2 separate regions of the Homo sapiens genome follow, and region 1 is linked to region 2. Evidence: fine-mapped expression QTL. Tissue or cell type: monocytes after LPS. Region 2 holds a variant in brackets; the other region holds the start of a gene. All regions are shown on one strand. Distances are between the middles of the regions.

Region 1 (4,390 bases), 64 kb after region 2:
TGGTGGGTATGGTAAATATTATTTGGTGACGGCCTTGTTAACAGTCTTGTCTTCTGTTTCAGAACACCAGCTAATGAAAGAGTTAAGCGTGAAGTGCTTCATGCACAGAGCAACAGATGCTCAACAAATCAGTGATGAAATCCAAGGATGGTAATTTCCTTTTTCTAATTAGCCATGAGAGCTTCAAGCTCCCAATGGGGTAGTTACCAGAATTTGAAAAGTTAGACAGTCATTTACCTTCTTCTGAGTTAATTTACATAAGCGGCTGGAGTGACCTGAGCTGGGACCCTGCCAGTCATACTGCCCAAAGATAATTAAAAGCCCTGGCTAGGGTCAAGGGACCTGGATAGTAATCTTGGCTTCACCACTGTCTGACAAACCTTGGAAACTCGCTTTCCATCTACTCATTCACTTAGTAAATATTAATTAGGTCCAATTATGTGCCAAGCACGGTGTTAGGGGATGGAAATATAAGAGCAAGACCCAAGTCTCTCAATTCCTGGAATTCACATTCCACCGGAAAGGTGGGGACCGGAGTACAGCCTACATCACCTACAGGTTCAGTCTCCCTATCTCTAAAATGTTAGGACAACCTCTGGGTTCAATTCGAATGTTTAGGCCCTGTTAATTTAGCATTTGATCACAGCTCAGAATATAGCAAAAGTCTCCCACTACCTCTGGCTTTCCCTTACAAAGGCGGGTATTACAAAAAGACTCGGTAGAAGTATTTTCTATAGTCTATCTTGCCCCGGAATGCAGGTCACGACTTTCTCCACCGCTTTTGACCTCTGGCTAGCATTCACACCTATTCTCAAAGGGCCCTAAGTGATACTGCATTTGGTATTCTGAGAAAGCTTGTTTATAAAAGCCTAAAAGGCTTCCTTGCTTTCCCCCAAGCCAGATATTTGCCAAATGGCATAGGTCAGAGGTGCAAAGTTGGTTTTGTCTTAGCAAGGCAAGAGAATCCACTAGCGGACTCACCCTTACCGGTGAGTCCAAGGAAATGCATAGAAAAGACACAGTGGTAAAACTAGCTGGGCACCTGTAATCCCTGCCCAAGGCAAGGCTGAGGAAGGGGGATCACTTGGGCCCTGGAGGTCGAGGTCGCAGTGGGACATGATGGCGCCACTGCACTCAGCCTGGAAGGCAGAGCAAGACCTTGCCTCAAAAAGAAAAAGAAAAAAAAAAAAAGGAAAAGACGCGGCGGTTCCACGAGTGGTGGCTAGGACCCATAATCCCAACACTTTAGGAGGTCGAGGCGGGAAACAGCTTGAGGCCAGTAGTTCGACACCAGACTGGGCAACTGTGGTGAGACCCTCGCCTTAAAAAAAAAGAAAGAAAGAAAGAAAGAAAATTAGCCGGGTGCGGTGGTGCACACCTGTGGTTTCCAGTTACTCTGGAGGTTGAGGCGGGAGGATCGCTTGAGCCCGGGAAGTCAAGGCTGCAGTGAGCTATGGACTGCGCCACTACACTCTAGCTTCGGAGACAGGTAAGACCCCCATCTCTAAAAAGATAAAAGAAAAGAGGCAGTAGTGAATGCAAGCAGGGATGGTAGCCCATGACCAGCAGAGGCCAAACAGACTTTAAGGCAGCATTCCGTTCTCCACACCCATGCCGGAAGCTTTCCTGCCACGCAAGCTTTCCGAGCATGCTAACTCGCCCCAAGCAGCTCCCATCCCGCAGCATCCACTGCAGCCGCTGAGGAGAGTGGCGCAGCGCAGAAACCAGTGCCCAGTGCCCAGGTGGGGGAAGCGGTCCGTGGGAGTCACGTGGGCGGGAGGCCCAGCCAGGATCCCAGGACTGCTCAGGCCTCCGCGCCCCCGGCCTCGCCCCGCCCGCGCGCGCTCGCGCGCCGAGGGCCACGCCCGTGACGTCGGCGGAGCGCGGTAGGGGGCGGGGCGCGGGCCGGAGTGGGCGGGGCGAGCAGGCGCGACTGAATCGGGCGCCGCAAAGAGCCGCGCATTCCAGTGAGTCCACGTGACGCGGCCGCGAGGCCTGAGGTAAACAACCGCGGCCCCGCCTCCCGGGCCTCCGCGCGCACCGCGCTCCTCCTCGCCGGCGGGACGCGCTCCAACGGGGCGGGCGGCTTCCTCCGTGAGTCCCCAGCGGCCGCCGCGGGCCGAAGCAGCTGCAGCGGGCGCGGCGCCCCGGGTCTGCGGGCCGAGCGCACCGGCAGGGGTCGAGCTCGCGTCCCGTCCCCGCCCCCCTGCGCTGTGGCGCAGCAGGAATTTGGCCGGGACCCGGGCGCTATTCGCGGCTGCTGACTCGCGGCGGCCGGCTGCCTTTCGCTCATCTCTATTCTGGGGCCGTTGGGTCACCGCGCTCCGCCGGCCCCCTCCCCCGGGCCCGGAGGGTGTGTCCCCCGCTCCGGGGCTCGCCGCGCCTATAAGGGGCCGAGCGGCGGGCAGGGACATGCAGCTCTACAGCAGCGTCTGCACCCACTACCCCGCCGGGGCCCCGGGTCCCACGGCCGCCGCCCCCGCGCCACCCGCCGCCGCTACCCCCTTCAAGGTCTCGCTGCAGCCCCCGGGAGCCGCCGGCGCCGCGCCCGAGCCCGAGACCGGTGAGTGCCAGCCCGCCGCGGCCGCCGAGCACCGGGAAGCCGCCGCTGTCCCCGCCGCCAAGATGCCCGCCTTCTCCTCCTGCTTCGAGGTGGTGTCCGGGGCCGCCGCGCCCGCCTCCGCCGCCGCCGGCCCGCCCGGCGCGTCCTGCAAGCCGCCGCTGCCGCCGCACTACACGTCCACCGCACAGATCACCGTGCGGGCCCTGGGCGCCGACAGGCTCCTGCTGCACGGGCCCGATCCCGTTCCCGGCGCCGCGGGCTCCGCCGCTGCCCCGCGCGGCCGCTGCCTCCTGCTCGCCCCGGCGCCCGCAGCCCCGGTCCCGCCGCGGCGGGGCTCCTCGGCCTGGCTCCTGGAGGAGCTGCTGCGGCCCGACTGCCCCGAGCCCGCGGGCTTGGACGCGACACGGGAGGGGCCCGATCGGAACTTCCGACTGAGCGAGCACCGCCAGGCCCTGGCCGCCGCCAAGCACCGAGGCCCCGCGGCGACCCCGGGGAGCCCCGATCCCGGCCCCGGTCCGTGGGGCGAAGAGCACTTGGCGGAGAGGGGCCCCAGGGGCTGGGAGAGGGGCGGCGATCGCTGCGACGCGCCCGGTGGGGACGCGGCGCGGAGGCCCGACCCAGAGGCCGAGGCACCCCCCGCCGGGAGCATCGAGGCCGCCCCGAGTAGTGCGGCGGAGCCGGTGATCGTCTCCAGGTCGGATCCCAGAGACGAGAAGCTGGCCCTATACCTGGCCGAGGTGGAGAAGCAGGACAAGTATCTGCGGCAGAGGAATAAGTACCGATTCCACATCATTCCAGACGGCAACTGCCTCTACCGAGCTGTCAGCAAGACGGTGTATGGGGACCAGAGCCTGCACCGGGAGTTGAGGGAGCAGACGGTGCACTACATCGCCGACCATCTCGACCACTTCAGCCCCCTGATTGAGGGCGACGTGGGGGAGTTTATCATCGCTGCTGCCCAAGACGGGGCATGGGCCGGGTACCCGGAGTTGCTGGCCATGGGGCAGATGCTGAATGTGAATATCCATTTAACTACTGGAGGGAGGCTGGAGAGTCCCACGGTGTCTACCATGATTCATTATTTGGGCCCAGAGGATTCCCTGAGGCCTAGTATTTGGCTCAGTTGGCTCAGTAACGGACACTATGATGCTGTATTTGATCACTCCTATCCTAACCCAGAGTACGACAACTGGTGCAAACAAACTCAAGTGCAAAGGAAACGCGACGAAGAACTTGCCAAATCTATGGCCATATCCTTGTCTAAAATGTATATTGAACAAAATGCATGCTCTTGAAATGTCTCAAAACCTTACACCCTGGGAATAATTGCATATATAACTTGTGTTTGGAGAATCACATGAACTTTAATCAGGGTAATAGCACTTTCAAACTTGCTAGTAGATTTTACTGTAGGTGTAATGCCTTAATCATCTTTTTGAATGTTTTCTCAGAGCTGGAGGTTGCTGGGCACCTAAATGATGTTTCATGATAGCTTTGGGTGATTTTACTGCTATTTATAATTTGCTGTATAAAGTGAGCATTACTTAATTTGCAAGCTGATTTCTCACAGTGTAAATTTGTTCATTCCTGGTAGTCTATTTTCTATAAAAATGTATTTTTGCACAACATTTTTAAAAACTGGTGTACCTTCATCTATGACGTGTTCCATTTTGACAAACAGCTTTCAGGCGTAAATCCAGAGAAGTGCTTTATATGAAATGTATTATTTTGAACAGAGTTTGTGATTTGGTAGTTATTTTATGTTGTTGAAATTTGAATTTCACAATTCTTAGATAATTATTTCAAATGGATATTGATGCATTCTTG
Region 2 (4,390 bases):
GAGCCACCATGCCCAGCCACTCCTCTTCTCCTGCTATCTCATAGTTTGGGCATGTCTTTATGCCTACTCTTGAAGCCATCCTCACAGGTTAACAAGAATTCTGGACAGAAATATAACTATAATTAAGCATTAATCAGGCTGCACTTTGACCCACTTTCTTCCTGGTCACATAACACTAGATACTGACCATTTGCATCTCCATGTTCCCATAGATAGAATTTCTGATGTTAGATAGGATCTCTTATGTTAGAATCATAAGGCTTTTGTTTAAGAATTGTTTAAGCATAGCCAGGCATGGTGATGCATGCCTAGTAGTCTCAGCCACTCAGGAGGCTGAGGTGGGAGGATCACTTAATCCTGGGAGGTCAAGGCTGCAGTGAGCAGAGTGCACCACTGCACTTCAGCCTGGGAGACAGACAGAAAGAAAGAAAGAAAGAAAGAGAGAAAGGAGAGAGAGGGAAAGAGAAAGAAGAAGGAAGGAAGGAAGAGAGAGAGAGAGAAAGAAAGAAGAAAGAAAAAAGAAAGAAAGAAAGAAAGAAAGAAAGAAAGAAAGAAAGAAAGAAAGAAAGAAAAAGAAATTGCTTAAGCAGATCCTGAATTCTGACAGAATCACTTACACCAACCAGTTTAAAGACCCCCAACAGAGGAACCAAATAAGCATGAGAATACAGCTTCTTCATCTCCCTGTCCCGCAACTTTACCCTGTACTCTAGAACCAATCAACAATCTCCACACTTCAGCCCACTCCAAACCCCTTGAAAACCCTATCCCCAAACTCCTTGGGGAGATTGGTTTGAGGTTTCCTCTTGTCTCCTCATTTGGCAGCCCTACAATGAAACCTCTTTCTCTGATGCAACCTGGTGTCTCAGCACATTGCTTTGCACATTGGGCAACTGACCCATTATGTTACAGTTTTACCCTATTATAATGTGTTACAATTATATCTCCTTCTGCTGCTAAATCACACACTCTTTGAAAGCAAGGACTTCTGGGTATCCCTAACAGTTAGTACAGTGCTTAGCCATGCAGGGTAATTGTGATCACCCAACAGATTCTTCCTGCCTGCTGCACAGACAAAATCAATCCATTGAGCCCACAGCACTGCAGTAGAGAAAGAGTTTAATTGATGTGAGGCCAACCCATGCAGGAGAACTGGAGCTATCACCCAAATGAGTCTCCCCAAATGCTTGGGGGTTAGGGTTTTTATGGACAATTTGGTGGGAAGGGGCTGGGGAATGGGTGATACTGATTGGTTGGGCTGAGTCCACTTCTGGGTCAGGTCACAGGATCCATTGAGTCATGAGTCACAACCCCAGGTGGAGTCAGTGTGAAAGATAGCTCAAAAAAACCAATTCTAGCTTCTATGACAGTGACATTATCTACAGGAGCAATTGGGAAAGTCATCAATCTTGTGACCTCTAGCCACATGAACCCTGAGCAGTAAGGGATTGTAGAAACTATACCTATCCAGAGGCCAGTTTTGGTAGTTTGTGCCTGTAATCCCAGCACTTTGGGAGGCCAAGGCAGGCAGATCACCTGAGGTCAGGAGTTCGAGACCAGCCTGGCCAACATGGTGAAACCCTGTCTCTACTAAAAATACAAAAATTAGCTGGGCATGGTGGTATGTGCCTGTAGTTCCAGCTACTTGGGAGGCTGAGGCAGGATAATCACTTGAACCCTGGAGGCAGAGGGTGCAGTGAGCTGAGATCGCACCATTTACACTCCAGTCTGGGTGACAGAATGAGACTCCATCTCAAAATAAATAAATAAGTAAATAAATAAAAGAAACCATGCCTATCTTATTGGAATCCAGGCCCCTCTCTATAAGCCTAACATTGTAGCCTTTCATTAGTTTTACAAAGATGGCTTAGTTTTGGAAAGGGCTATCATCTTTGCTTTAACATTAAACCATAAACTAGATTCCTCCCAAAGTTAGTTTGGCCTACCCAGGAATGGCCAAGGACAGCTGGGAAGCCAGAAGCAAGATGGAATCAACTATGTCAGATTTCTTACTGTCTGTGACATTATGATATATATTGGATTTCACCCATGGTTCCTGGCTCATACATAACTCCTGTAGCCTCTGTTACAGCCTTTTGTTAGAATGTTGGGTGTGCTAGGCCTCAGAGGCAGGTCTCTGACCTTCTCCTGCCCTCCTTTCACTCTAATGTGTCATGTCCACCCCCGCAACCATCACCAACCCCCTCACCTGCCTTTCCAATTGTTTAAGACCCTCCCAGGAGAACATCCCACGCTATGCCCTGAGGGAAGGAATGCTGATGTCATGAAGCTTCCATAAAAATCCAAGAGGACAGGGTTCATTGAACTTCCAGATAGCTGAACAGTAGAGGTTTCTGGAGACCAGCACCCAGGGAGGGCATGGAAGCTCTGCGCCTGTTCCCCCTTACCTTTCCCTACACACGTCTTCATCTGTGTCCTTTGCAATATCCTTTATAATAAACCAGTAAACGTAGGTAAGTGTTTCTCTGAGTTCTGTGAGCTGCTCCCTCCAATTAATTAAACCCAAAGAGGGGGTTGTGGGAA[C/G]CCCAACTTGAAGCTGGTTTGTCAGAAGTTCCAGAGGCCTGGACTTGTGACTTGTGTGTGTGGAAGGGCAGTCTTGGGAACTGAGCCCACCTGTGGGATCTGATGCTATCTCCAGGTAGATAATGTCAGAACTGAACTAGAGGAAACCCAGCTGGTGTCCACTGCTTGGTGTGTGGGGAATGCCCCTCCGACATTTGGTCACAGAAGTCTTCCCCTGTGTTGGTGATTATTCTGGTGTGAAAGTAGAGGAAAAACAGTTTGGGGAGAGTGTTTCCCTACACATTGTCATAATTTTGCAAAAGCAGTTTTATAATCACTAAATGCTTATTGAGTAAATGACTGATGTGAAACTTGTAAATATGACTTATTCTAGCTGATGGTCAAAATCCGCAGTGTTAGCAGTTAGTATGACGTCATACCTTCTGATACATCTTCTTTAATGCCACAGCTCCAATAGGGATAATATTGAAACACTCACAGCTTTGTGGGACTTTGCTTTTTCAGTTCCTCTCAGACCCAAGGGATGGAGCTGGGTTTCCCAGAAGCAAAACAACTGAAGAGGAACTTGTCTATTTGACCTTTTAGTTTGAGGCCTGCTCATATGACAAGCTCATGGCATAAAATAGGAATTTCCAACTATATAAGAAATACCAATGCTTTATCCAACTTGTTACATGAACACATACCCTTCCCCCACAGACACATACCCACATACACCACACACGCACACACACAGTGTCACATGTGCAGCATACACAGAAATGACTCCTCAATTTCTGAAAGGGGCAAGAGGCATTTGGCCTTCAGAAGGGAAGATAAAGGGGAAATCAAGTCTTATTAATTTAAAAGTTTTTGAGACGGTAAATAAGTATAGACAGGGGTAGAGAGACTGTATCTATTGTTCAAATCCCCAGGGCCTCTGGTAAGAAGATTTTAATAAGATCTATAAAGATCCCCTCAGCTCTAATGACTTACTATTGTAGGATTTCACCACAGAATGGTTTGTTTTGGAAAGCATTTAAAGAGCAGCCATGGAAAATAATCTAAAGCTTCAATTCTTGAGCTAAACAACTTTGATAGTGTTATAATTGATTTGGAAGACTAGGTATACCAGGAGCTCTGAAGTTTGTGGATACGGTAAGCTCACTAAGTAGAGAATTAACTAATCGATGAAGGTGAAAAAATTCGAGGACACATTTGTGGGCAGAAAAGTGGCACAGGAGCTTTAATTAAGGACAAATGTTAAATAATGCAATTAAAGAAAAATGATACAACCTAAGTCTGTAAACTGACGAACTCTGAGCTATCAAATATAACCTAAGAGAAGGATTAAACATTACCTGGGGACCTATATATAGAGATGAAAAATATATTCTATAGAAATATACACCAAACTGACTGTTTGCATCATATGGCTTATAACACTGAAAAACTAGAAACCCAAATGTTCTCTTTTTTCTTTTTCTTTTTTTGAGGCAGAGTTTTGCTCTTGTTGCCCAGGCTAGAGTGCAATGGCATGATCTTGGCTTACTGCAGCAGCCTCCACTTTCTGGGTTCAAGCGATTATCCTGCCTCAGCCTACCAAGTAGCTGGGATTACAGACGTGTGCCACCATGCCCGGATTTTTTTTTTTTTTTTTTTTTTTTTTTTTTTTTTTTTTTTTTTTTTTTAGTAGAGATGAGGTTTCACCATGTTGATCAGGCTGCTCTCAAACTCCTGACCTCAAGTGATCTACCTGCCTCAGCCTCCCAAAGTGCTGGGATTATAGGCATGAGTCACTGCACCCAACCCCGAATGTTTTCAAAATCGAATTTCCTTAATAAATTGTTGTATACCTATGCCATGA

Which allele goes with the higher level. Positions count from the first base shown, and alleles are read on the strand shown. Sizes are in standard deviations (SD) of each study's normalised expression.
As copies of C replace G in region 2, the expression in monocytes after LPS of the gene that starts at base 2,030 in region 1 goes up (large effect, 0.92 SD a copy in Quach 2016).

Evidence for each region. PIP is the estimated chance that this variant, and not a neighbour inherited with it, causes the effect.
Region 1: it holds the start of OTUD1, and the variant in region 2 is the best candidate, but not a certain one, in a credible set for the expression of OTUD1 in monocytes after LPS (Quach 2016, PIP 0.64).

What each region holds. Positions count from the first base shown.
Region 1 is chr10:23,437,046-23,441,435 of GRCh38, forward strand. It overlaps OTUD1 (OTU deubiquitinase 1), which reads left to right and starts at 2,030. Exons shown (of 1, transcript NM_001145373.3): 1 at 2,030-4,390. The coding sequence starts at 2,413. The coding sequence ends at 3,858. RefSeq lists silencers at 1,759-2,348, 2,399-2,738, 2,879-3,248.
Region 2 is chr10:23,373,340-23,377,729 of GRCh38, forward strand. No RefSeq gene overlaps it. Among named protein-coding and RNA genes, the nearest start is that of C10orf67, 31 kb to the left of the region's middle. The variant C/G (reference allele first, on the strand shown) is at 2,545.